Regions from separate parts of the Homo sapiens genome. Here regions 1, 2, 4 and 5 are each linked to region 3. The links come from fine-mapping of genetic effects on gene expression. A gene starts in region 3. Each other region holds a variant in brackets. All regions are shown on one strand. Distances are between the middles of the regions. Region 1 overlaps ZBTB24 (zinc finger and BTB domain containing 24). Region 2 overlaps CD164 (CD164 molecule). Region 3 holds the start of MICAL1 (microtubule associated monooxygenase, calponin and LIM domain containing 1). Region 4 has its middle 44 kb from the start of CD164. Region 5 has its middle 28 kb from the start of CD164.

Evidence for each region. PIP is the estimated chance that this variant, and not a neighbour inherited with it, causes the effect.
Region 1: its variant is the best candidate, but not a certain one, in a credible set for the expression of MICAL1 in whole blood (INTERVAL, PIP 0.74).
Region 2: its variant is the best candidate, but not a certain one, in a credible set for the expression of MICAL1 in memory regulatory T cells (Schmiedel 2018, PIP 0.64).
Region 4: its variant is the best candidate, but not a certain one, in a credible set for the expression of MICAL1 in monocytes (CEDAR, PIP 0.57).
Region 5: its variant is the best candidate, but not a certain one, in a credible set for the expression of MICAL1 in whole blood (INTERVAL, PIP 0.59).

The regions. Positions count from the first base shown.
Region 1 is chr6:109,477,281-109,482,410 of GRCh38, reverse strand. It overlaps ZBTB24 (zinc finger and BTB domain containing 24), which reads left to right. Exons shown (of 7, transcript NM_014797.3): 2 at 357-1,336. The coding sequence starts at 385. Among named protein-coding and RNA genes, the nearest start is that of ZBTB24, 3.4 kb to the left of the region's middle. RefSeq lists an enhancer at 1,200-1,701. The variant A/T (reference allele first, on the strand shown) is at 2,923.
Region 2 is chr6:109,367,316-109,372,445 of GRCh38, reverse strand. It overlaps CD164 (CD164 molecule), which reads left to right. Exons shown (of 6, transcript NM_006016.6): 5 at 1,979-2,035; 6 at 3,429-5,130. The coding sequence ends at 3,595. Among named protein-coding and RNA genes, the nearest start is that of CD164, 13 kb to the left of the region's middle. The variant T/C (reference allele first, on the strand shown) is at 2,548.
Region 3 is chr6:109,453,005-109,458,004 of GRCh38, reverse strand. It overlaps MICAL1 (microtubule associated monooxygenase, calponin and LIM domain containing 1), which reads left to right and starts at 2,233. Exons shown (of 25, transcript NM_022765.4): 1 at 2,233-2,286; 2 at 3,766-4,066; 3 at 4,160-4,367; 4 at 4,638-4,742. The coding sequence starts at 3,809. RefSeq lists silencers at 1,612-2,461, 2,822-3,161 and enhancers at 2,721-3,229, 3,312-3,361, 3,592-3,641.
Region 4 is chr6:109,336,359-109,341,488 of GRCh38, reverse strand. It overlaps the pseudogene CCDC162P. Among named protein-coding and RNA genes, the nearest start is that of CD164, 44 kb to the left of the region's middle. The variant G/T (reference allele first, on the strand shown) is at 2,100.
Region 5 is chr6:109,351,792-109,356,921 of GRCh38, reverse strand. It overlaps the pseudogene CCDC162P. Among named protein-coding and RNA genes, the nearest start is that of CD164, 28 kb to the left of the region's middle. The variant A/G (reference allele first, on the strand shown) is at 2,898.

The DNA of each region.
Region 1 (5,130 bases), 24 kb before region 3:
CACGGCAACCTCGAACTCCCAGGCTCAGGTGATGCTCCTGCCGCAGCCTCCTGAGTAGCTGGGACCACAGGCGGGCGCCACCACGCCAGGCTAATTTTTGTATTTTTTGTATAGATGAATTCTCTCCATGTTGCCCAGGCTGGTCTCAAGTGATCCGTCGGCCTCGGCCTCCCAAAGTGCTGGGATTACAGGCGTGAGGCCACTGCGCCCGGGCCCAGAGCTAAGTTTGTAGACAGACAAAAATGGTAATGGTAAAATTCAGTTAATGATGTGAAGTGAATAGGAAGTTCATGTGGGCTGGCATTAACCTTTTAGACAGTGCTTTCTCCTTTTTAAACCTTGTTTTCTTATTTCAGATTTAACCCTTAGTGGCTTCTGAAGAAAATGGCAGAAACATCGCCAGAGCCTTCTGGGCAGCTTGTTGTACACTCAGACGCTCACAGTGACACTGTGCTGGCCAGTTTTGAGGATCAGAGGAAGAAAGGCTTCCTCTGTGACATTACTTTAATCGTGGAGAATGTACATTTCCGGGCCCACAAAGCCTTACTTGCTGCCAGTAGTGAATACTTCTCAATGATGTTTGCAGAAGAGGGGGAAATCGGCCAATCCATTTATATGCTGGAAGGCATGGTTGCAGACACCTTTGGTATCCTGCTGGAATTTATCTACACAGGTTATCTCCATGCCAGTGAGAAAAGTACAGAACAAATCCTGGCTACTGCTCAGTTCTTAAAAGTCTATGACCTGGTAAAGGCTTACACAGACTTCCAAAATAATCATAGCTCCCCAAAGCCAACAACTTTGAACACTGCTGGTGCCCCAGTGGTTGTTATCTCTAATAAGAAAAACGATCCTCCAAAGCGGAAACGGGGAAGACCAAAAAAAGTCAATACATTGCAGGAGGAGAAATCAGAACTGGCTGCAGAGGAAGAAATACAGTTAAGAGTGAACAATTCAGTTCAGAATAGACAAAACTTTGTGGTTAAAGGAGACAGTGGTGTACTGAATGAGCAAATTGCAGCAAAAGAAAAGGAAGAATCGGAGCCTACTTGTGAGCCAAGTAGAGAGGAGGAAATGCCAGTTGAAAAAGATGAGAACTATGATCCCAAGACCGAGGATGGCCAGGCAAGCCAGAGTCGATACAGCAAGCGGAGGATTTGGAGATCCGTCAAACTTAAAGATTACAAACTTGTTGGGGATCAAGAGGACCATGGTTCAGCCAAGAGGATCTGTGGAAGGAGAAAGCGCCCTGGAGGCCCTGAGGCCCGCTGTAAAGACTGTGGCAAGGTCTTTAAGTACAATCACTTTTTAGCAATCCACCAGAGGAGCCACACAGGTAATGATGTTTTCAAAGCTGATTGCAGTGTGTTGCAGAATTGGGAGTAGTGATGATAATAATAGCTTCCATTTACTGTGCAACTTCTGTGTGATGGGCATTGTAATAAAGCCTTTATACATGTTATTGCAGTTAATTTTCTCCACAATCCTGCAAGGTGGGTAATATCCTCATTATACATTGTATGATTAAAATCATATTTACTCATATGTAAGAGAGGGTTGCTAAAGTGCATAGTTTACAGATGAAGCAACCAAGTTCTAGGGAGCTTAAATAACTTGCCAGAGTCACCCGTTAGTGACAGAGCTGGGATTGAACCCAGGTAGCCTGGTTCAAGAACCCCTCTCATTTGTAGTTGTTGAATGAATCCTTTAATGTCCACTTATCAAGATCTAGCCCAATGTACCCTGCTTTCTGATTCTTGAACATTCTTCATCTTGACCATAACCATGCTTTTGCCCAAGTCTGTGTAGATCACTTTGTAACTCAGCTATCTAGCTTTAAATACCTTCTCATTTTTGGTCCCTCTAGCCCAGCGCTGACCAATGGGACCCTTCTGTGATGATGGAAATGTTCCTACATCTCTGATGTCCAATATGGTGGCCAGTAACCACATGTGGTTTTTGAGCACTTGAACTGTGGCTAGCGTGACTGAGAAACTGAATTTTAAATTTTATTTTAATTCATTTAAATTTGAATAACCACATGTGGCTAGTGGCTACCGTATTGGACACTGCAGTCCTAGTGAGAAATCCCTTCCTCCTTTGAGCCCTTTCAGGTGCTTAAAACCCACTCTGCTTTGGATCAGATTGTTGTTACCACTTGTATATCCCTCAACTTAATTGTAATCTTAAGTATAGGGACTGGGGCTTAAGTCTTCTCCTGTGATCCAGCAGTATCTGGTGCTGTGGTTCTCAGCCTGCAAATTGGAATCACTTAGGGAGCTTCTAAAACTACCAGTGCCTAGACCTCCACCCCAGAGCTTCTGATTTAGTTGTCTGGAGCCTTGGTGCTTTTAAAAGCTCCCTAAAGACTTTAGCTACAGATAGGTTGAAGAGCTTGAATTCAGGTACTTCGAACAAAGTGGATACTTGAGAAATATTTGTTGAACTGTAATAGGTTATATTTTAGCTTTTTTTTTTTTTTTTTTTTTTTTTTTGAGATGGATTCTCGCTCTGTCACCCAGGCTAGAGTGCAGTGGCGCGATCTCGGCTCACCGCAACCTCCGCCTCCCGAGTTCAAGTGATTCTCCTGCCTCAGCCTCCTGAGTAGCTGGGATTACAGGCACACGCCACCACGCCCAGCTAATTTTTTGTATTTTTAGTAGAGACGGGGTTTCACCATGTTGGTCAGGCTGGTCTCAAACTCCTGACCTCGTGATCTGCCTGCCTCAGCCTCCCAAAGTGCTGGGATTACAGGCGTGCGCCACTGCGCCCAGCTGGCTATTTTTATCAAAAATTTTATGTGCATAGTTTAGAGTTAAATCATTATACAAGACTTAAGAAAAAGCATGTAGGATCGTTCTTCCCTTATGTCCTCAGTACAGACAGTCCCCGACTCACAATGGTTCAATTCATCTTTACAAT[A/T]GTGTGAAAGCAGTACATGTTCAACAGAAACTGTACTTTGAATTCTGAGTTTTGATCTTTTCCCGGTCTAGTAATATTCAGTATGATCCTCTCATGCCATGCCGGGCCACACAGTCACGTGGGTAAATGACCAGTACTCTGCATTTGGTGCATTCATACAGTACTCTGTATAAGTGCATTTTTCCTTATGATATTTTCAGTATGATGGGTTTGTTAGATGTAGTCCCATCATAAGTCAGGAAGCATCTGTATTCTGAATTTTGCAGCCCATCACTTTAGTATGGGTCTGTTTTCTTCCATCTGGGTAGATAACAGGTAGATTCATAAGGTTTGGAAACTGTCTTTCAGTTCTGGAAAATCTTGAGTTATTTCATAGATGATTTCTCCTCTCTGTTTTCTCTGTTCTCTCTAACTTTATTTTCTCTTATATTTTCCATCATTTTTGGCCCCACCCTCTGGGGGATTTCCACTTTGTTTTTCAGCCCTTTGAGGTTTTCTGTTTCAACTCTTATTTTTTTCCCCCTTTAGGAGCTCTTTTTTTTCTAAATGTTTTAATTTGAATGATCTTTTTATTTCACAATGTATTATCTTACCTCTATGAGCATGTTAATGATAACAACATTTTCCTCACTGGAGGCAAGTTGCTTTTTTTTTTCTTCTTGCTTGTTTGTCTGTCACTATTACAAAAGGCTCTCCTTGAGTGCCTGGTGTTTTTTTTTTAAATCATATGTAAGGGTGGGTTGCTAAAAGCTACTGGCAATGCTGCATGTGTGGAGAGAGCCTGTATTTTATTTATTTCTTAGGCTGTTGCCCAGGCTGGAGTGCAATGGCGTGATCTCCGATCACCACAACCTCCGCCTCCTGGATTCAAGTGATTCTCCTGCCTCAGCCACCCAAGTAGCTGGGATTACAGGCACGCACCACCATGCCTGGCTAATTTTTTTTGTATGAGAGAGTCTGTAAAACTGTGACCTTGTTCCCAGATCACACTGAGAGTCAGGCTGCTATTTCTCGTGGCCCAATAATGAGATGCAGATGAATTGGAGAGGAAGAGAGTTTTTATTTCTGTAACCAGTTATAGGGAGAAGGCCTGGAAATTATCGCCAGACCAACTCAAAATTACAGAATTTTTCAGAGCTTATATACCGCCTAAGCTGTATGTCTGTCTGTAAGTGTGCATTCCTCTAAAGACGTAGGTGATTAACTTCTTTTAATCTATATCCAAGGTCTGCGTCCCAAAGACCTTCTTCTGGAGCCTCAGTAAGTTTACTTAATCTAAATGGGTCTAGGTGCTGGGGTGATTACCCTTATCTTCTGCTAAATCACGGAGATTTGGGGAGTTCCTTCAGATCCCCAGTAAAACTTGTTTAATCCTAAGTGGGCCCTGTTAAGAATTCCTTCGTTATTTTGTCATGCTTTAAGGCCCAGGAGAAGCCTAGGGGAAACTCTTGGTGGGCTTTTGTTACATTCCAGCCTTTGTTTAAGGGCACTGGCTTTTAATGTTTAACTTAACCACTCAGTCAGTACTGAAACAGTTGTATGGAGGCCTGTCATAACCTCACTGGAGGTGGTGTGGCTGTGCCCCATGTCCTTACTGGTGCCTGGCTTCCACATCTTTGCTCTCTCACCTTGGACCTCTCATGTTCCACTGGAAGACGCTTCTGCTCTCCCACTTGGAGGCACTAGGCCTGGCTGCTGGCCTGTGTCTAGGACAGGATGGGGAAGAAGGAGTGGGGGAGTCTCATCATCCCAGATGGAAATGTTGACTTACTCTCCCTGTGGTGATCCCAACTCAACTGTGCCTAGAAACTCCTAATCCAAAGACCCCTTTTTCTTAACCCTCCTCAGTGAACACTCTCCATTCTCTTTTGGGGGAGGGACAGTCTCCTGGCTGTGTAGAGTGGAAGATTTGATCAGGGGTCTAAGCACCTTTGAAACAGACTTTCATTTACCCTCCCTCACCCCTGTTTCCAGAGATAGCAGGTGCCACCAATTCCTGAGCCTTAGGAGATTGTGTCTTAAAAATTAGGTTGTATTGGGCTGGGTGTGGTGGCTCATGCCTGTACTCCCAGCAATTTGGGAGGCCGAGGCAGGAAGATTGCTTGAGCCCAGGAGTTGGAGACCTGCCTGGGCAACATAGTGAGATCCCATCTCTAAAAAAAATTAAAATTACAATTAAAAAATTAGCTGGGTGTAGTGGTGGCACAT
Region 2 (5,130 bases), 86 kb after region 3:
TAAAAGAAGTCTTAAGCTCTCTGTGACTCATGGTCATGTGAAAATTAGAATACCTTAGTTTCCTAGGATTCAGTCAACCTTGGGATTATGGGTAGTCAGCCTGTTACGAGAGTCCTGGTCTTTAAAGATCTACTTTTAGCAACAATTCAGGTATTTAGCAATATCTGAAAACTGTCAAGCCCTGCTCTTTTAGTGTATATTTACTGTTAAAGCACAGAACTTCCTCTTTTATATTAGTAGAATTTGGGAGGATGCTGATTCCTATTGAGGTTTTTGTTCGATTGTTTGAAAGTCTAATGCAGTGAAAAGATTACTCATTTCTGTGCTTCATCAACAGTTATTTGGCACCCTTTCCCTGTCTTTCGTGGGTTAAGCATATCACTTTGAAGTCTGTTCAGTTATGTACTTTAAACAGAAGTAACATTTGTTTTCCAAATTCTCTTTAGCCTTCAAACCCTTTTTTCTGAAATAGTACAAAAATGAATGTTTGCATAGCACCTTACATTTTTATAAAAATATAAATCTCATATGATTAATCTTCCTCATCTTTCCCCAGATCATCCCTAGCGGCCCACCAGCATAAGCATATCCTCATATTGAAGCCCTTGCACTCTGAAGCCTGACTTACCTAATGATTTCCTGAGACAAAATAAGCTCTCTTAGCTAGTGACTCCTATAGTGCACTTTCCAAAAATTTGAACCCTACCCTTAGGACAACCTCTTAATGAAACCTTTCTCAAATGCTCCAGCAAACTTTGAATTTATTTGGTAGCCATTTGGATGTTAGAAAAAATGTTAATTTGTAGAAACTATATTCACATCCTTCCTTTCTGAAAGCCTTGGTCAGACTTCTATTAGTATTCATACTACCAATAGAAACTTAATAGGTGATATACTGGCTGGACGAGGTGAGTCATGCTTATAATCCCAGCACTTTGGGAGGCCAAGGCGGCAGATCACTTGAGGTCAGGAGTTCAAGATGAGCCTGGTCAACATGGTGAAACCCTGTCTCTCCTAAAAATAAAAAATTAGCTGGGTGTGGTGGCACATGCCTGTAATCCCAGCTACACAGGAGGCTGAGGGAGGAGAATCGTTTGAACCTGGGAGGCGGAGGTTGCAGTGAGCTGAGAATGCACCATTGCACTCCAGTCTGGGTGACAGAGCGAGACTCCATCTCAAAAAAAAAAAAAGAGTGCTTTAGTCCCTAAAATGATTTTACATTCAAACTAATCCTTCTCAGAGTGTACATTTCTTTAGCAGTATCATCAGCTATTAGGTTGGTGCAAAAGTAATTGCAGTTCTTGCCTTTAGTAATGGCAACTCAAATAGTATTTTGGCCTCATGCAGTGTGGTGGACTAGAGCTTACTTAACCTTGGGCTCTTAGAATCTTACGTTGGGGAACTGTGGGCCCAGGGCCCCTGTTCTTATAAAGCTTTATTGGAACATACCATGCCCATTCGTCTGCATGTTGACTTTGGCTGCTTTTGCATCACACAGTGCCCAAAGAGTAAAATATTTGCTTTCAACCCATTTAAGAAAAGTTTGCCAACTCCTGAAGTGAAGAAGATAGGCAAATCTCAATACCCTTGTAAGAGAGAACTTACGACTTTAATAGTTTTTGTCTTAGGAGAAAGATTATGAAGAACCTATAGTTTCCTCACCTAAATGTTCTTGCCCTTGGCAGTGAGCAAGATAAGAGTTTTCGCAAATTTTATCCAGATGTATACATAGATTTTATACAAGATAGATACATAGATATTAACAATTTTATGATTGCTTATTGTTTTAAAATACACTTAAATCCTAGTATTCTTGGGTGCATAGCTATGTTAGTGAACCATTAACTGAAATTTGGCTTTTGGTCTCTAAAAAATTGAAAGCATGTTGAAGTTGGCAGGATTATTTTTTAAAGCTGTTAGATAACTGGGAAGCTAGAAATTTAAGGTTTTTTAAAAAGACATTTTGTTTTCATTCCAGCTAAACCCACAGTTCAGCCCTCCCCTTCTACAACTTCCAAGACAGTTACTACATCAGGTAATTGAGGCTTTTTAGATTAGCAATGATGCAGGATGTGTGCACGATGTTGCCCTTTACAATTTCTGCCATCATTTTCCAGCTTTCTTCGTTAATGGTTATGGAACTGAAATTCTTCTCTTACTCTTAGGGGGGATCAAGGTAGTGCTTTGTTAACACAATAATGATAGCTTTGCTGAGATTCCTCTTCTCATTTTTAAATGTGTAATCACATTTGACGTGACACTTTAGAATTAAGTAATAATGTTTTTCCAAACATTTCAGTACAACTTGTATGTAAAATCTAATTTGTAACTTCTGATTACCGTTAGGGATTGGTTGTGTGCTGTATGAGAGAGCATGGCGATTTGAGGGAAGATAATATATCCGTCCTTTTCACTGAGAAAGGTCTAAAAAGCCAGAATCACTACCAGATGTGCACCTCACTTTCTTAACCATTTCTTAACATTGCTCAGTAATGTGAAAATTAGCTTGTTATTAAATGATGATTTGACATAATCTAATTTAATTCA[T/C]AGTTAGGTTACGCCACAGGATACTGTAGGTACACAGGTTAGGAATCCTTTCCTCCCTCCATATTTTTAAAAAACTGATGCTAATGAATCTTCTACCTGCTTTTTGTGATTTCTTTTTCTTCATGCTTATGCCACCTTTTTCTCAGTTTCAGTGAAGCCATTCTGTCTTCACGAGAAGGAATACAAAACAGTTGTCATTAAAGTTACCAACTTGTACAGCCACCAGAACCAGTGTTCTTTGATAACTGTTACTTTTTTCTTAGATTATTTTAAATGGAAATCGCTTTTTCTGTTTCCTCTTGAAACATTTTACTGCCTGAAAAGAATTCAGATATTTGTTTTTTCCTTATTACTTGATAATACTTTCTCATGTGAAATTTGTTGGCAGGATATGCCTTTAAAAACAGTTATTTTACTTGTTGAAATTATAAATTGCATATTATTAAGATTATTTTTGTAACATGAAAAATTGCAACCAAATATTTTACCTTATACTAGTAAATTCAAAAGTCATGTGAATTCTCAGCACTATTGACGTTTACACTCACAATTAACTAAAAGTACATAGTCTGAAGAAATTGTTGCATATTTTAGAAGTGTTTGATACATTCCCAGGGCACAATTTATGTACTAGGAGAATTTTTCCCATTGTTTTTATATTTGTACTAGTACAGTAGCATTGACCACTTTGTATCCTTGGGTGGAATGAAAAATGGGATATGGTTGTCTTCCTCAATTAGGGATAAATTCTAGCTGTAAAGACTTGAGGAAATACTTTATAGAATTTAACACATGGCAAAATAGAGGCTCAGGTGCATCTTTAAATTACAATAGAGGACCATGAAACTTAGGATTGTTGTTTCTTTTGTCTTATCTAACAGGTACAACAAATAACACTGTGACTCCAACCTCACAACCTGTGCGAAAGTCTACCTTTGATGCAGCCAGTTTCATTGGAGGAATTGTCCTGGTCTTGGGTGTGCAGGCTGTAATTTTCTTTCTTTATAAATTCTGCAAATCTAAAGAACGAAATTACCACACTCTGTAAACAGACCCATTGAATTAATAAGGACTGGTGATTCATTTGTGTAACTCACTGAAGCCAAAATACTATCTTTTAAGATGTCCCACATGGAAGACGCTATTCCAGGATCTTTAAATTTCCATGGATGCATATAGGATGTTTGGGAGCATCATCCGTGAAGAAAAAATCAATTAAATCATTGTGTTCAACAGGAATATTTAAAATATTCTGCATGAATCCTGTGGCTGTCTTATTTTAAATAGCTGCTGCTGTGGGATTATATTTTTTTTCCTTAACATGCCAAATATAACTTTCTGAAAGTGATGGAAAATGTTGTCTTGTGCAGACAACATCATGGCTCTTGGCAGTTTAAATTTAGTAATTTTAATTTAGTGAACAGAATTGAGAAGAACGTGCCAAATGAGAATCAATTAGGTGGATTTTTGGCTGTCATTTCAAAAGTGGAATAAATTTATTAATTTAGTAGTACTAAATGGTATCCTTAGATTAAAATTTTGTGCTTGATAACAGCTGTTTTTTCTACATTAGAAATAAGATGCCACACAAGGAACTACATTCCAGATTTAAAGAAATGAAAGGATACCATTAGTGTGTATAACAGATTATTGTTCATACTTGTAAAGCATCTTATGTCATTGAGAATATAAAGAACAGTGCCTTAGAAGACAGTGAAAGGTAAGCTCTAGCTTAATGTCTATGATTTGTTCTTTGACATTAAGGAAGGTAAGGATTGGTCAGAGGATGTAACTTGATGTGAGCAGTAGTAAACCTGTTTTAGATATCATACTGTTAATATTTTATTGAAAATTTATTTCAGAGCGGAGAAACTTAAGCTAAAGTCTGTTATACAGAATTGAAAGCCTTCGTATCTTGAACCTCCCAACATTTTTCTTATGGCTGTTGAAAAGTATAGAGCTAAATTGATTTAATTACACTTTCCTTTGTACTTTAAAAAAAAGTATGCTAGCACTATTGTACCTTGAAAGGATTTCCACCAGACTGTCTTGAGTAGTGACTTCTTTGGTGAGGCAAGAAGGATATACATTATTTTAGAATCATTTACTATTTAAATGAGACAATCATATTATTTTAGAATCATTTATTTTAAATGAGACAATCATTTTAAGTTTTAAGATAACAGAAGTGACCAATGTAATTTCACAACACCTAAGGATTTTTTGGTTGATCAGGTTACTGTAGATTTTTACTGATTGTCCTGGATGAATAGACTGTGCTTTTTCTTTTTCTCTCCCTTCCTTCTTGGTTTCCCATAGTATAATAAGCATGCATACTTTAACTTCTATAGTTTTCTCCTTTAGAGGGTCGTCTTCAGTTTTAGAGGTTTACTTCTCCCTTGCCTTTGACTCATTGGACTAGTGCAGAGGCTTTAAGTAGTTTAAAATGGGCTTTTGCTTTTCTAGGTCATTAACGTTTTTTATTTAGTTTCTTTAGCCAATAGTGGCTGAGTTTCGCACTTGATTTTCAATATTTTATAGTAAGAAATGACAAACTGCTTTGTTTCATTTCATAAACAAACT
Region 3 (5,000 bases):
TGCCTCCATTTAGAGATGGGCAGACGAAGTGTGGTTGGTGACATCCAAGGTCACACTAGGCTAGCGTGAAGCAAAGCTGGAATCCAACCAGACCTTCTGGATTCCAGAACAATGTATTCCCTGCTGCTTTATGCCCCCATGTTAAGTATTTAATTAGCATAAGTTGAAACTTCAAGTCAGCAGTTTTTAGCACTGATGAACTCATTATTGTTCTCTGATCTTCTTTAAAGACAAATTTTATGATGTGTCATTCATAGAGCCACATGACCCTGCTTGGCAAAAGGCATTGAGTCAAGCCAGACCCCACTAAGCCTTTGCAAAGTGGAGCGGCTAGTTGTAGCCGCTGTAGTTGTAGTAAGTGGAGCGGCTAGTTGTGTACCATCTGCTAGTGAAAGGGAAATGAGATTATTCTAGAAGCCAGGGACTGTCTCGGGATCTCTTATGGTCTCTGGATCTCTTATGGTCTCTGGATCTCAAGGACAGCAACCCTCCTCTTTATTCCTCGGTTTTATTAGTGTTTCCAGCGTGACAGTTCACTTCCTCTAAACAAGACATAGCTTCGTATAATGCCAGCCTTTCACGCATCATTTTGAATCAACCCTGGGGTGGTGGAGCCCAGGGTAACCCAGCTGTAGTGGACTTTAGAACGTTTTTACACCATGTATTTAAATATGGGTGTGTCTGATATTCGGCAAATTCATTTCAAGCCAAATGACGTGTCACACTCAAAAGCTAGGATGGGCCCAACTGAGAGGCTGCCCTAGTTTTCTGAGCGTGACCTGGCTGAATTCCCTCGCCTCTCCTGGCAGAGAACAGGCATTTCCCCTTGCTTTCGTCCCACTGCCTGCTTCTCAGCTCGAGCTGGGAACAGTGAGTGTTCAGGTCTTACTGGGTCTCAGATATTTTCCAGATGAAATGCAAAATGAGAATAAAGGGAGAGGCCCTATTCCCTCCCAGCTCTTTATGGTCTCTGGATCTCAAGGACAGCAACCCTCTTATTTATACCTGGGTTTTATTAGTGCTTCCAGTGTAACAGTATCACTTCGTCTAAACAAGAAACAGCATCTTATAATGCCAGCCTTTCATGCGTCATTTTGGGTCAACCCTGGGGTGGTGGAGCCGACAGACCTGGGCCCCCAAACAGCTCTGCCACTTGCTGTGTGCAGATCACAGAACATCTGTGACTCAGTTTCCTTTTTGGTAAAATGGGACTGTTGCAAGCACTGATGTTGAGGTAATACTCATAGGATGACGGTCAATAAATGAGACGATGTTTTTTAATATTAACTAGCTAAAAGACTGGACGCGTCCCTTCACTTTAGGCGCTGTTCCTTATCGGGAATACGACGAAGCTGATCCCAAAGGCCTCTCCAGCCCTTTTCAGCAGACAGTCCCGTGGGTCCTCACTCTAAGGCATTCTTTGAAGACTTGGTCTCTCTTCCACACACCCCTCCCATTCCCCATCTCTTAGTGGTGGTCTAACCCGCCCCGCCATCCCCTTCCCTCTCACTTCTCATATCCATTTGGAAGCTGCAGATTGCTGAGTTTCCAGGACTTTAATCCGCGCCCTTTGCCCTCGGCCCGGGCTTAGGGGTCGACCTCTGTCACAGGAGGCGCACTCTGCGCTTGGATCCATCCTGGGGCGCCCGGGCCGTGGATCTCCAGGTGGGAGACCGGAGGAGAGCGCAGACGTTCCGGCGCCACCCTCGGACCCGCCGGCTTTTCCAAACCTCTTGAGGAGCCTGAGCGCCCTCTCGGCCCGGCGCTGGGAGGCTGCCAGCGGACCTGGGACCGCGGCGGGGGCGGGTGGTCCTCGCCTTGCGGCGGGGAAAGAGCTAGCCTTGCACGCGCAAGCACCGGCAAGGAGCCCAGGCCGAGGGTGCGCGGTCCAGCACTGGGCGCCCTGACCCTCGAGCTCCTCAGCCCCCAACAGGCCAGACCCACCCAGAGGCCCCAGAGCGGAACGGGGTGTCCGCAGCGCCACGCCCTCGGGCGCCACCCTGCAGGCATGGGCGGGCCCAAGACTGTCCCCGCTGGAGGCGGTAGAGGGATCCAGAAGTAATGAGATGCTAATGAGTCGCGAATAAAGCCCGGGCGGCGCCCCGCGCCCCTCGCGGAAGCCCACACTCCGCGCGACTCCAGGCGCACGCCCCGGGCCGCCCCGCATCCCAGCATCCCCGCCCGATCTCGGCGTTTCCGCCCCCGCCCCCGCCCCCGCCCTCCCACCCGCTCAGACCTGGTTGCCAGCCCAACAGGAAGCGGCCCCTCCCGGCTTCGGAGCCGCCGGTAAGTCGTCCAGCGGAGCCGGCTGCGAGCCCCGCGGCCGGGTGGGGTGAGGTGGGGTGCGCTTCCGGGGAAACGCAGCTGCGGTCGCTCGGGAACCACGCCTGGCAGGTCAGGCAGGTCTTCCCTCAGCCCAGCCCTGCTCACGCCGCGTCCGGACTTTGCCGTCCAGTGTCGGGGACCCCCACCGCTGCCGCCCGCGGTCCAGCTCCCTCTCCATCCTTTCAGACCGCTCCACCCCTCTCACAGCCTTTGTCCTGGCGTTTCCAGGCTGGGTCGCTCCTTTCTCCCCTTTCGCCGAGGTCTTCCTCCTTCCACCCTCCACCCCCAAGAAAGATCTTTGCCCTTCCGTCATGAGATTCCGTCTGCCCTCGTCCGGGCCACCCGCAGCGGGAGGCTTTCATCTCCTGTCTCGGCGCGGCGGGCTGGGAACGGAGGGGCAGCTGGATGGTGGAGGGGCCTGAGCCTCAGGGACCTGCCCCCACTGCTGCCATTCACCCTCCCTAACGCTGCCGTGGACACCCGCCTCCTCCATACCCTCTGATACCTTCTGGGCCCCGCGTGAGAAACCCCCTCGGGCACCCTTCAGGTGGCGTGGGAGGGGGCGACAAAGCGAGGCTTTGTCTCCGGAGATTCCTGGGAGAGCGCGCCCGGGCGCACAGGGGGCGGGGCGGGGTAGGGGTCGATCAGGGAGGGGGGAACCTGGGAGGGGCGCACCCGGCTGCGGTCGACCCCCAGCCCTACCCACGGCCCCCTGGAGTAGGGCACATTCACAGAGGAAGTGTTTTGACCACAGTGCGTCAGAAATAGACCCAGGCCTCCGTTCCCCAGTCAGTCGCAACATCCTCCCGCCGTTTGTTGAGGCAGTTTGGTGGAGGGAAGTGGAACCTACGCGGACAGAGGCTGTTTCTCTGTCAGGAGGCAAGCACGAGTGCTGAGGAAAACTTTGCCCTTGCCATGAGACACTTCTCAGACACAGCGTGGCACTGAGGCCATCAAGGGGCGCCGGCACAGGGACGCTTGGAGGGAGATGGGGCAGGATGTATGCTCAGCAGCTGGGGTTGTGGGTATCAGATCTGTCCCTGTGTTGCATGCAAAGGCAGCTCTGTCCTCTCCACATCTAAGAAATCCCCGCACACCCTGATTCCAAGGCCTAAGGAAGGCAGGCTAAGAATTCCTACCCCAGGGCTTGGAGATCCCTGGACAGGGAGGCTGAACTGGAGGCTCCCCTGGTGTCCCATGTGCCCTCTGTGCCCAAGACTAATGTTTTTCACTTCCAAATTTGGCAAATTTCACTTGGAGTGGACTGGATAGCAGCTGTCTCTGGAGCAGATGCTGGCAGGGGAATGGGCTGGGAGGAGCAGAGCCAATCACTGGTGAATCCCGAGCTCCCTGGGGACACCAGCCTGCTCTCTTCGCCTCCCCTTCCTTTTTATTTCTTCTGTTCTCCAGCCTCTTCCCCTTCTTTTTCCACCTCTCCAGCCACTCATCTCTGCCCAGCTGCTGCCCTCCCCAGGAGGCCTCCATGGCTTCACCTACCTCCACCAACCCAGCGCATGCCCACTTTGAGAGCTTCCTGCAGGCCCAGCTGTGCCAGGACGTGCTGAGCAGCTTCCAGGAGCTGTGTGGGGCCCTGGGGCTGGAACCCGGTGGGGGGCTGCCCCAGTACCACAAGATCAAGGACCAGCTCAACTACTGGAGCGCCAAGTCACTGTGGACCAAGCTGGACAAGCGAGCAGGCCAGCCTGTCTACCAGCAGGGCCGGGCCTGCACCAGCACCAAGGTGGATACACGGTGCCTGGGATGGGGTGTGGAGCATGCGGGGAGTCAGAGGACGGACAGGATGCCATGCCCTCACTGCCCTGTGTGTTCACAGTGCCTGGTGGTGGGTGCTGGACCTTGCGGGCTGCGGGTCGCTGTGGAGCTGGCGCTGCTGGGGGCCCGAGTGGTGCTGGTGGAAAAGCGCACCAAGTTCTCTCGCCACAACGTGCTCCACCTCTGGCCCTTCACCATCCACGACCTGCGGGCACTCGGTGCTAAGAAGTTCTACGGGCGCTTCTGCACCGGCACCCTGGACCACATCAGTGAGCACCACGTGGTGGCCTGGAGGGGCGGGTGAGCTTGGGCCTAGAGGCAGGCCAGTGGGGAAATGCTGGGACAGCCAAATGTCGAAGTGGACAAGATCCGTATCAGCCAGGTGACCTTGAAGATTCAGGTCCCCCATCTATAAGTGGGCTTTTGGGCTGAGTGATTGCTAAGGCCTTTTCCAGTCTGACCCTGACCAGGCACACACTGGTACATGGGGAGCTTGTGCTGCCCTAGGGTCCCTGTTCCTAATGTCCTCTCCCTTCCAGGCATCAGGCAGCTCCAGCTGCTTCTGCTGAAGGTAGCATTGCTGCTGGGGGTGGAAATTCACTGGGGTGTCACTTTCACTGGCCTCCAGCCCCCTCCTAGGAAGGGTAAGTATTTCTATGCTCCCTGGAATCTCCCCCTCCCCCATCAAGAACTTGGCCAGTGTCTGAAAAAGGATGGGCCAGGAGTGTCCTTTTCTGTTTTTGTTTTGAGACAGAGTCTCGTTCTGTCACCCAGGCTGGAGTGCAGTGGCATGATCTCGGCTCACTGCAACCTCTGCCACCCAGTTTCAAGTGATTCTCCTGCCTCAGCCTCCTGAGGAGCTGGGATTACAGGCATGTGCCACCATGCCCAGCTAATTTTTG
Region 4 (5,130 bases), 120 kb after region 3:
AGGCTTGGGATCAGCCATCCTGGGGACTGTCTGGGTCTCCCCCACCAGAGCTCACCTTCTCTGTCCTGCTCAGCTGGGCCTGGAAGCACGCCTGCTGCACAGCCAGCCTCCAGCGGCCCAGGCTCCTCACTTTGCACACCAGGTTGGCCAGGCTGCAGTTGTCCTGCTCCAAGGCCCACAGCTGTTCCTGCTAAGAAGGCTCATTTTCAGGAAAGGCTGCCCCCAACATTTTCATAGGAAGGGCACAAACCCTAACATCAGAAACATGCCTTCCAGAAGATGACACAATTGTGCAGTGCGTCCCTGTGCCCCCTTTAAAATGCCTGATGCAATGCTTTCTCAGGGAAATCAGGCTGGAATGCTAACAGGGTGAATGGTAGAGTCAGATGCTAGGATGAAACGCTGATATCCCATTGCTAAATGAAATCACATACTTTGGCTGGGTTTTCTTTCATTCCTTCATCGGGGCTGGCAGAGCACCATTTTTTCTTTAGGTCCTTCATATTGTCAATCCCTTCTGTTCTCACTTCACCGATGAGCTCACACACTTTCTGGATCAAATTAAGCTGATTATCATCCAGCTTCTCCTGCAAATTGCAGAATCAAGTCAAGGAAGTAAAATGGATTTGGGTAGTGTGAAGGGTAGTTGAAGAAAAGCCATTTTGCCTTCTACAACTTAACTTTTGTAAGTAATTTCACATTAAGATATCACCTCCTCAGACAATTATTCTGACATGTACTATAAGGAAGTCACACTTAGCAGCCCCCTGAGTGCTGTCTTTTATTCACAGGGCTTCATCTTCTGGACACCAGCACATCTTAGATTGTGCCTTCCTTGTCAACACCAAGGCAAGCTGAGCCAGGAGGATAGTGGAAGGTCACACAGGTAGAAAACCTGCTGACCAAACTGCCCCTGGTAAGAGTTACTTGGGAAGCTGAACCAAAGATTTTTGCTGCTATGTTGACTCACAGTAGAATGTGAGCAGACAAGACACTGTAGATGAGCCACTCCTGAGGAGCTCTGTTAAATATAGATAAAGTGGAGGAGGGAGTCAGGCTGGCTGCCTTCCTATTTAGGATCTAGCAGAAACCCCATTAGGAAATATTCCGTTCTGAATGGCTTCTGGCTAAATGGCTTGTGAGGAAACAGCCTGATCAATGGTAAGTACGACTGAAGACCCAGTGCTATGGACTGAATTGTGTCTTCCTCAGATTCATATGTTGAAACCCTAACCAGCAATGTGACAGTATCTAGAGATAGGATCTTTAGGAGGTAATTAAGATTAAAATGAGGATATAAGGGTGAGGCTCTATTGCAATAGACTGTGGCCTTATAGGAAGAGGGAGAGAGAGAGACCTTTCTTTTTCTCCCTCTCTCCCATGTGAGGACAGTGAGAAGGCAGCCACCTGCAAGCCAGGAAGCATGCCCTCAGCCAGAAGCAGACCACACTGGCACCCTGATCTCAGACTTCTGGCTTCCAGAACTGTGAGAAATATACTTTCTGTTGTTTAAGCTGTGCAGCCTATCATATTTTGTTATGGCAGCCTGAGCAGACTAAGACACCCAGTGTCTCTGGGGTGAGAGGTAGGGTAGGGGTGTCCTCTCACTTCTAAACCACTTCCCTGGAGAGGAAGGCAGGAGGAGGGTGCCCAGCTGGGAGCCACGGAGGGAAGCCTGGCTCTGGCCACACAACACAAGCTTTAGCAACTTCGTGGGACCCTGGAATATAACAGGGATTCCCTACTGTAGGAGGCTTGGTGGAACTACTTCAGCCTGGGAAACAGAGAGAATCTACTTTTTAACTGGGAATCTGGCAGAAGCTAAAAGGAACTTAAGACATTTCTCAACAATCTCACACCTGAAAGATGGCTTAGCAAATTCCAGCTGTCACTGTCTGCCCATCCTTCTCCTGCAGCACCAGACCTAATACATTTTGGGTTCGATCCCTTAATATGTGTAAGCATTTACACTGCAAGTAAGAGGAAATTCTCGCTGGAATGACCAGGCCAAGGTGAGTACTGGTGGAAGCTCCTGTTAACCTAACAACCCTCAGGGCCATTCTGCAATCCCTGGGGAGAGACTCAAGGACCCAAACGGG[G/T]CTGGCTTTGGGGTGTATCCAATAGCAGGGAAGGGGACAGGGTTGGGGGAAGCTGTGGACTTGCAGGTGGTAGGTTGCACTGAAATTCACACTGGTGAGTCAGCTGGACCAGTCTCCCTGATGGCCCATTTTAGGCTTGGGGCATCTATCTTATGGCTGTGCAAACATCACATGAAAGCGATTGGCTTCCACAGTGCTGCGGGTGCATGCGTACCCCATCACTTCTGCAATGGGTCTTTGCTGACAGGTCAGCAGTTTGCTGACATTGAATGTGAGAGTGAGGCTGGCAGGCATTTTGAGGGTTGGAAAAAAATGTGGAAGCTGATTCAAATTCTGAATGTGTCCAGGGAGTTCTCCAGAGGCACCTGCTGCTACCTACGTAAGGTCCGGCCTGGCCCAGGCACTGTAGTCTGGAAAGTCACACTAACAGATAAAATGGTGATAGAAACTGGGGAGGTGAGGGACTGTGGGGAGCAGAACACTCTGTCCTCCCAACAGCAATCAGACAGTGACAATAGCAACTGTCAATAGAGGGTAAAAGATAGACTTCTATATTATCCCCAAATTCAGTGTCTATCGTGGTTAATGACAACCCATTGCTGACTCTCTTTCTGCAGTGAAAGCTTAGAGCTAGAAAATTCTTGGGCCTAACAATCTCTTGTTACTACAAAGCCCATTATTCTGTCATCGATCCCTGGGTGTGCAGCCACCATGGGAATCCGTTACACTCGGCTACCCAATGGGTGGCCCAGATGTTCAACACGGGACACTTACTTTTATGTGTAAACAGGTCTCAAACAAAGCTCGGACTAATGCTTCATATTCTTCTTGGACTTCTTTTCTAATCTGCTTCTTGAGATTCAGATTCACTTCTTCCAAGTCTGTGAGTTGGGCTCTCAGAGTGGTGATTTCCATGATCATATCATGACTGAGCTCTGCAATCTAGAAGCATGAGAAAATGTGTGTGTGTGTGTGTGTGTGTGTGTGTGTGTGTGTGTGTGTGAGAAAAACAATTTAGGAGTTTCAAACTGCTACTACAAAATAGTTTCTTATAGATCAGTATTGAATTTCACTTCTATTTTAAACCTAATGAAGAGAGTGAACATTCTGCTAAATAAATGTGGGCAGAAGAATTTAAGGACAATTCAAAGGTCCCAGAACAGTGCCAGACACTGACTGGTGAATAAGTGACCCCAGAAAAGCCACTACATAGGCCCTTTTCAGTTAGAGAAAAATACTTCAACTGTCTTGGCCTCCATTTCCAAACTGGCCTCCCCTTGACACCTCAGCCCAAACATCCCTTTTCTTTTTTGGAATGCATTTTATTTTATTTATTTATTTAGTCTGAGACAGAGTTTTGCCCTTGTTGCCCAGGCTGGAGCGATCTTGGCTCACCGCAACCTCCACCTCCCGGGTTCAGGCAATGCTCCTGCCTCAGCCTCCCGAGTACCTGGGATTACAGGCATGCTCCACCACACTTGGCTAATTTTGTATTTTTAGTAGAGACGGGGTTTCTCCATGTTGGTCAGGTTGGTCTGGAACTTCCGACCTCAGGTGATCCACCCACCTCAGCCTCCCAAAGTGCTGGGATTACAGGCGTGAGCCACCGCGTCTGGCCTGGAATGCACCTTAACTGGCATCAAAAGAAAACAAGAAACAACAACAAAACTCCCCAAAGTAACAACAAAAACAGAACAAAACAAAACCAGTACAAAATAACAAAAGCGACCAAAAAACTCAAGAAAAAAAAATGCACCCTAAGGAGGGTTGCTCACCAAAAGTGAAAGCACACTCCTTGGTGTTCCTGCAGTGGACCTTCACTGACGGGACTTCTACAGGTGACACAAGCAAATGACTCTAAGGCATCCCATAGCTGGCTAGCCCTGAGAGTGTGGATGTGAGAAATGGAGAAGAGAACCTTTTAATAGGAAATGACCTACCTGGCCAGCACTGTCTTCAGGTGGACCCTGGCCTCTTTGTGTAGCATCTAATTCCTGGGCAGGAGAAAGCAGTACACAACCAAACTCTAACATTTAGTCTTCCAACCATGGCTCAGGTCAGTACAACACATTCCAAACACCTCCTATTTGTGTTAATGGAGCCCCATTTTGAGAACCTTAGGCTGTGCCTGGAGCTGAGACTGTGTGAGTTGCCCCACTGGACTTCAGGATGCCTAACACAGCCTCAAAAGACAACATTGACTTCCAGGTACCCACACTGATGCCAAGAACTGAGTAATGGGGATAGCCCAAAATAGGGGTGGCTCCAAGGCTCGTTGTTCATCATTTCAATGCTTCATTTGGTGTTTTGGCTAGTGGTTTAGACTTTTGAACTTTTCTAAGGTATAAACTAAAATCACACTAAATCTCTGATGCAATCTACCTTCACAATAGTGGGCAGCCCAGGGCAGGAGGACTGACTCTTCCATCCCACCAGCAGGCTCATATTTTAAGGAAGTCTCCCAGTGAGACTGACCCATGACATGCATCCTGAAGAGAGAGTTTACTCAAGGATCCTGGCTTCTTTCCCAGACCAGGAACAGCGCACGGTGCCTTGTGTTTGCTGAGGGTGGAAAGGACAGCTATGTACCTTCCCCTGCAGGGCCAGCCCCTTTGTTGCTCACCTTTCGTATTCTCCACTGGACACTTCCCAAGCACATAACCTAGTGTGCAACTGAGAATACCAGAGCCCAGGAGAATGATTGAGCCAATGAGTAGAGAGATTTGAGGGTACCATTCACCCTCAGTTCTGGCATAAGAACCACTGTATGTATCCCAACCCCCTCAGTTTTACTTTTCTCTTCTGAGTGCCTCCTGAGCCTCCCTGCCCATGCCCATTCCCCACTGCAGTTCTTCTCTCTCTGGGAACCTACTTGCTCTTTCTGGCTGAGCCTCTGCCTAGCATGATGCAACACATGCTCATAGCACATGGAGTAGGTCTCAAAGTTGCTGCATTCTCTTGCCATCACATCACAACCCAGGGAAAGGAGGCAGGCCTCAAGGTGATCTTTCCTGAAAGTGATCTGAAAGGA
Region 5 (5,130 bases), 100 kb after region 3:
TTCCATCTGTGTTCTGTTTCAGTACATTTTCTGTTGTTTATAACATAATACCTGAAATGGGGAAATTTGGGAAGAAAAGGAATTTATTTCTTAAAGTTATGGAGGCTGGGAAGTCTAAGGTTGAGGAGGCACATCTGGTAAGAGCCTTCTTGCTGGTGGGGACCCTCCATAGAGACCTGAGGCAGCACAGGGTATCACATGGTGAGGGAGCTGAGCATGCTACCCAAGTCTTCCTTTCTTATAAAGCCACCAGTCCCACTCCCATGATAGTCCATTAATTTAACAACCCACAAATCCATTAATCCATGAATGGATCGATCCATTAATCCATGAATGGATCGATCCATTCATAAGGGCAGAGTCCTCATGACCCAATCACCTCTTAAAGGTCTCACCTTTCAGTACTGCCACATTGGGGATTAAATTTTAACATGAGTTTTGGAGAGGACAGACATTCAAACCATAGCAGGTCTATCCTCTGGGAACACCCTGCTCCTGGTACCAGTTCTATATCAGTCATGGGCCATTCAGGAGACAGAAAGCACACAGTAATTCAAACAGGGAAAGTTTGATATAAAGAATTATTAACTATAACAAAAGATTGGCATACTGCTTGTAAGCAATAAAGAGAACTCTAAAGAATACAAGGATAGCGGATGTAGGGACCAGCCACTACCCTTCAGGGCTGAGATCCAGACCTCATTGGAGAGGATCTGGCCAAAGCTTATTGGATGGCTGAGAAATTCACAGAGACTGCAAAGCTATTCAAAGGGGTGCTGGAGGGGACCCGTCACAGGAGGTGCCATGCAAGTGGCACTCTACCATGGAGCTACATGCATCACTGGAGCCAGGCACCACAGAAACTGTATATACTACAAGAACCTGGTGCTGCAGAAGCCATGCACACTGCAAGAGCCTGCCTAGAGGAGCACAAGGTAACCTGGAAAAAAACCCTGCCACCTCCTACAGGGTCCCTCCAGCACCCTCTACTGAGAGCTTAACTTCTTGCCAGTTGGCAAAGAGGAAATATTTATAGGGTCCATATTTGTTATTGCAGAACAGACAATAAAGAATGAATTTGGAGCTGAGATATAAGTTGATAACTGATACAGTATTTTATCATACTGAAGTTTTAGTTCTGATACCAAAGTTACCAATTTTCCTATTGGCTTTTATATTCTGTTTAAAAAATCAGTTTGTGCATGTGTGGCATGTGTGTCTGTATGCATGTGTACGTATGTGCATTTAGATCTTTAATCCATTTGGGATTTATAGTGTATGGGGTAAGGTGATGATTTAATTTATTCCAAATAGCCTCCATGTTCTCTTTAGTTTGAAAAGCCACATACATCGTATTTAAATTTATGCATGTAAATATGTTTGTCTGTTCCATTCATCTGTTTATTAATTGCTTTACACAAGACAGATTTTCTTGTCTGAACAAAGGACTTGGATTAGGACTTTATACTAAAGTCTGAGGAAGTATTTGGCATTTGTAGGAAGAATGAAAAGATTGTTAATAGAGGATGGCAAATTTGTTTTCTAAGAAGTGAAACAAATGCTTTAACGTTCATTTGTGTTAATCTCTATTAACATACTTTGGTTTTTCACTTGTTAGTAAACACTGCTTAGAAGCAAGGGCCTCCATCTTAGCTTTCCTGCTTACCCACTAACTCTAGAATTCGTATTCAGAGGCTGCTGGCTGACCAGAGGCAAAGGCTAGCTTGTAGAAATGCAAATCAATGCTTAGGTTTTAAAGTCTGGGACCAACCCCTACTTCACCTGGGGTTGGTTCAAGATGTAATCATCTTAGTCCTTCAACCCTGTCTTCCAAGTACAGATAAGAGAATTTCATACATAAAATTAAGTAAGAGATTTAATGGCATTTGGAGTCATTTTTATTCATTCAAATACTCATAGAAATAAAGGTTGGAAAAAGAAGATATCATCACCAGTCAGCTCTAAATGGGAATCTGGATGGAGCTGTTTGAACCTGAAAAGCTGTCAGTTGAACATTTTCTGCCATATTGGGTAGGAAAACATCGTCAGTTCTTTTTTTGTGTTTAATAGGTACCTGTAATATAAGTAGATATTGGTGTTAAGAACATGGTGAATAATTCTTGTTATAGCATCATAAAAAGTCACTGTTATTAATGAGACCAAGATCATTGATTCAGTCTGGGTTAGGCCATATAGTATGCCTTCTTGTCTGTATTTTGCCATTGTCCTAAAGGGAATTGGTCAAGAATGAATCCATCAGTGGAAAGCCATTTCCAGTTAAGGAAGAAAACACAGCTCATACTTCAAGTAATCTAAAAATTCCTTAATTTTTTATCATTTGTGTTAGTGCAGGGCTAATTTTTAGAAAATTAACTGTGTTCTTACATTTCAGCCATGTATAAATTCCTCTTCAATGAGTATTTATCTGACTTGTCTCATAGGCCTTGCTTAAGAAGTCAGACCTGAGATCTGAAGTTCCAGCTAACTGTGTACCTTCCCTGGCCTTGAGGTTTTTTGCTTGGGGTTCCCGTATTGTACATAGCCACTGGGCCAATGGGCCCACAAGACACTTCACTGTAGGGTTTATTTATTTGGTAGGGCAATGTTCATCAATTAGCTTTAGCCTATCACCCTTTTGAATCTCTCAAATATAATAAATCTTCACTAATGCACTTATCTGCTTAGCAGCCTTTTCAACAAGTCACGATCACCAACACCCCCATGGTATTGCAGCTTTCAGGGTGAAATGGAGATGAAGTGATTCTTGAAAGCCCTTGTGATCCCACACATACAAAGTGAACTTTGCTTCTTTTTGAAAAGGGCTTTTGCGGAAACATAGACATATAATACAATTTCACATTTTCAAGAAAGATGACTGCACAGAGATTGGTGAGTCA[A/G]GCAAATGGTGGACATTAGTAATGTGGCCCTCACTTGGTCAAGATGGTGTTTGGGTATCTTCCCAACCTGTCTTTCCCCCTTCTTAACTGCATGTTTAGAAATCTTGAAACTTTTGATCCTTATAACTAGACCATCAGCTGCGGAATTACACCATCGAATGACTTGGAATGGCATACTTTTCTCTGAAGGAATGATTAAATATTTTCCTCTTAATTTTTCATCAGGTAATGGGAAATAATTTTTTTTTTTTTTTTTGAGATGAAGTCTCACTCTTGTTGCCCAGGCTGGAGTGCAATGGCGCAATCTCAGCTCACTGCAACCTCTGCCTCCCAGGTTCAAGCGATTCTCCTTCCTCAGCCTCCCGAGTAGCTGGGATTACAGGCGCCCGCCACTATGCCCAGCTAATTTTTGTATTTTTCATAGAGACAGTGTTTCACCATGTTGGCCAGGCTGGTCTCAAACTTCTGGCCTCAGGTGATCTGCCTGCCTCGGCCTCCCAAAGTGCTGGGATTACAGGTGTGAGCCACCGTGCCCAGCCAGGAATTCCTAAATGTGTTGATTAGATATGTGAATCTCTAGAAGGGATTCTGAAAGAAAATGCAGCAAAGAGTAAAATACTTATTAAAGCAGTAGAGAGGAGGCAGTGGAAGAGGAAGTATATGTTGTTTTACATAAACTAAAAACTGAAACATTTTACGAGTTCTTCAAATACATGCTAATCTGCATCCCAGGAATTTTCTTGGAGGGTAGATTTCTCACGTGTTTTAAAATGACTTCCGAAACTTATTTCTGCTCTGTTGGGGAACTCAGATAAGGAGTCTGATGCTGCTAGTTAATTGTTGAAGATGATTGGGGGAAAAAAGAAATTCAGAGATGGAACACAGCAAGGTGTTGGTACTGATTCCACACCCATTTATTGACTTGTAATTTAGAAGGTGCTGTTATAGGATTATTTCAACATCAGAATTTTCTTATCCAGATTCAAGGCATCTACATAAGCTCCTGATATATAATTTTTCTAATGTAAGTCTGAAGTGACCCAAAAACCATGAAATCAAATTGTAAGGCTTTATTGTTTAATGCATGTAATCAATCTTATTATTACTTACAGTCTGTGGCCTTTGAATCCATCTTGTTATTTTACTGCCTTTGAGATTAGTCTTTAAAAAGCGTTGCTGGGAGTATCTGGATGATGTGGAAGCAGAAGTTGGGGAGTATTGAGCCTGGGATATAAGGTCTATAAAGTTAAAAATGTTAAATTATATCTCTGGTTGCAATGGATAAACCTAGATTATTTTGATTTTTTATTTTTTTGAGAGTGGGGGCCTCACTCTGTTGCCCAGGCTGGAGTGCAGTGGCACGATCGTAGCTCACTATAACCTCAAATTCCTGTATCTAGATTTAATTCATAAAATTTAGGGCTTAAAATTGGCATCTAACTCAGCTTATTTTTCAGCTTCATCAATTTTGAGCAAATGTGTCAAAACTTGGAGAGAGTTTTTTGCCCAATAGTCGCATGACCAAGTAAAAGTGAAGGAGGTGACAAGAGACTTGGACTGTGGTAGGTAGAAGCGGATAGACTGAGAGCTACTTAAATTAGTAGGAGTTGAGAATTAACCAGATTTGCAGGGTGACAAAGAATAGCTCCCAAATTTCTGGCTTAAGCAACTGGATATTTGGCACTACCATTTGCTGAAAGAGCATCTCCCCCACCCCAAAAGTAGGAAGGGAGAAGGATAGGAAGACGGGTTCCATTCCTGTTGAACTTGTGAGCCTGAGACACGTGAACGTAGACATTATTCACTGGACATATGGGTCACTGGATATAGGGGTCTACAGCTCAGAGGAGAGTTTTGAGCTGCAGATGTAGACTTAGCAAACAATGATTAAAGCTGTGGGAAATATGCAATTATTTGGAGACAATGTGAGGTGAGAGAAGAAGGGGCCAGAAAGATCCCTGAACAACTTCAGTGTTTAGAGGTTGGATACAGTAGGAGGAACTAGAAAAGGAGGAGATAGAAAAAGCAGCCAGAGGAAGAGGAAAACCACAAGGAGCAGTGCCAGGAGAATAATTAGGAGAAGGGTGTGGTCAGCTGTTTCAAATGCTGCTGAGACATGAAATCAGTGAGAACTCAGTGTCCTTTGGACTTGGAGACAGAAGTGAAGGTGATCTTGGCAAGAGCAACTGCAATGAAATGGTGGTAAGAAAAATCAGATTGCTGGTGGTGGTGC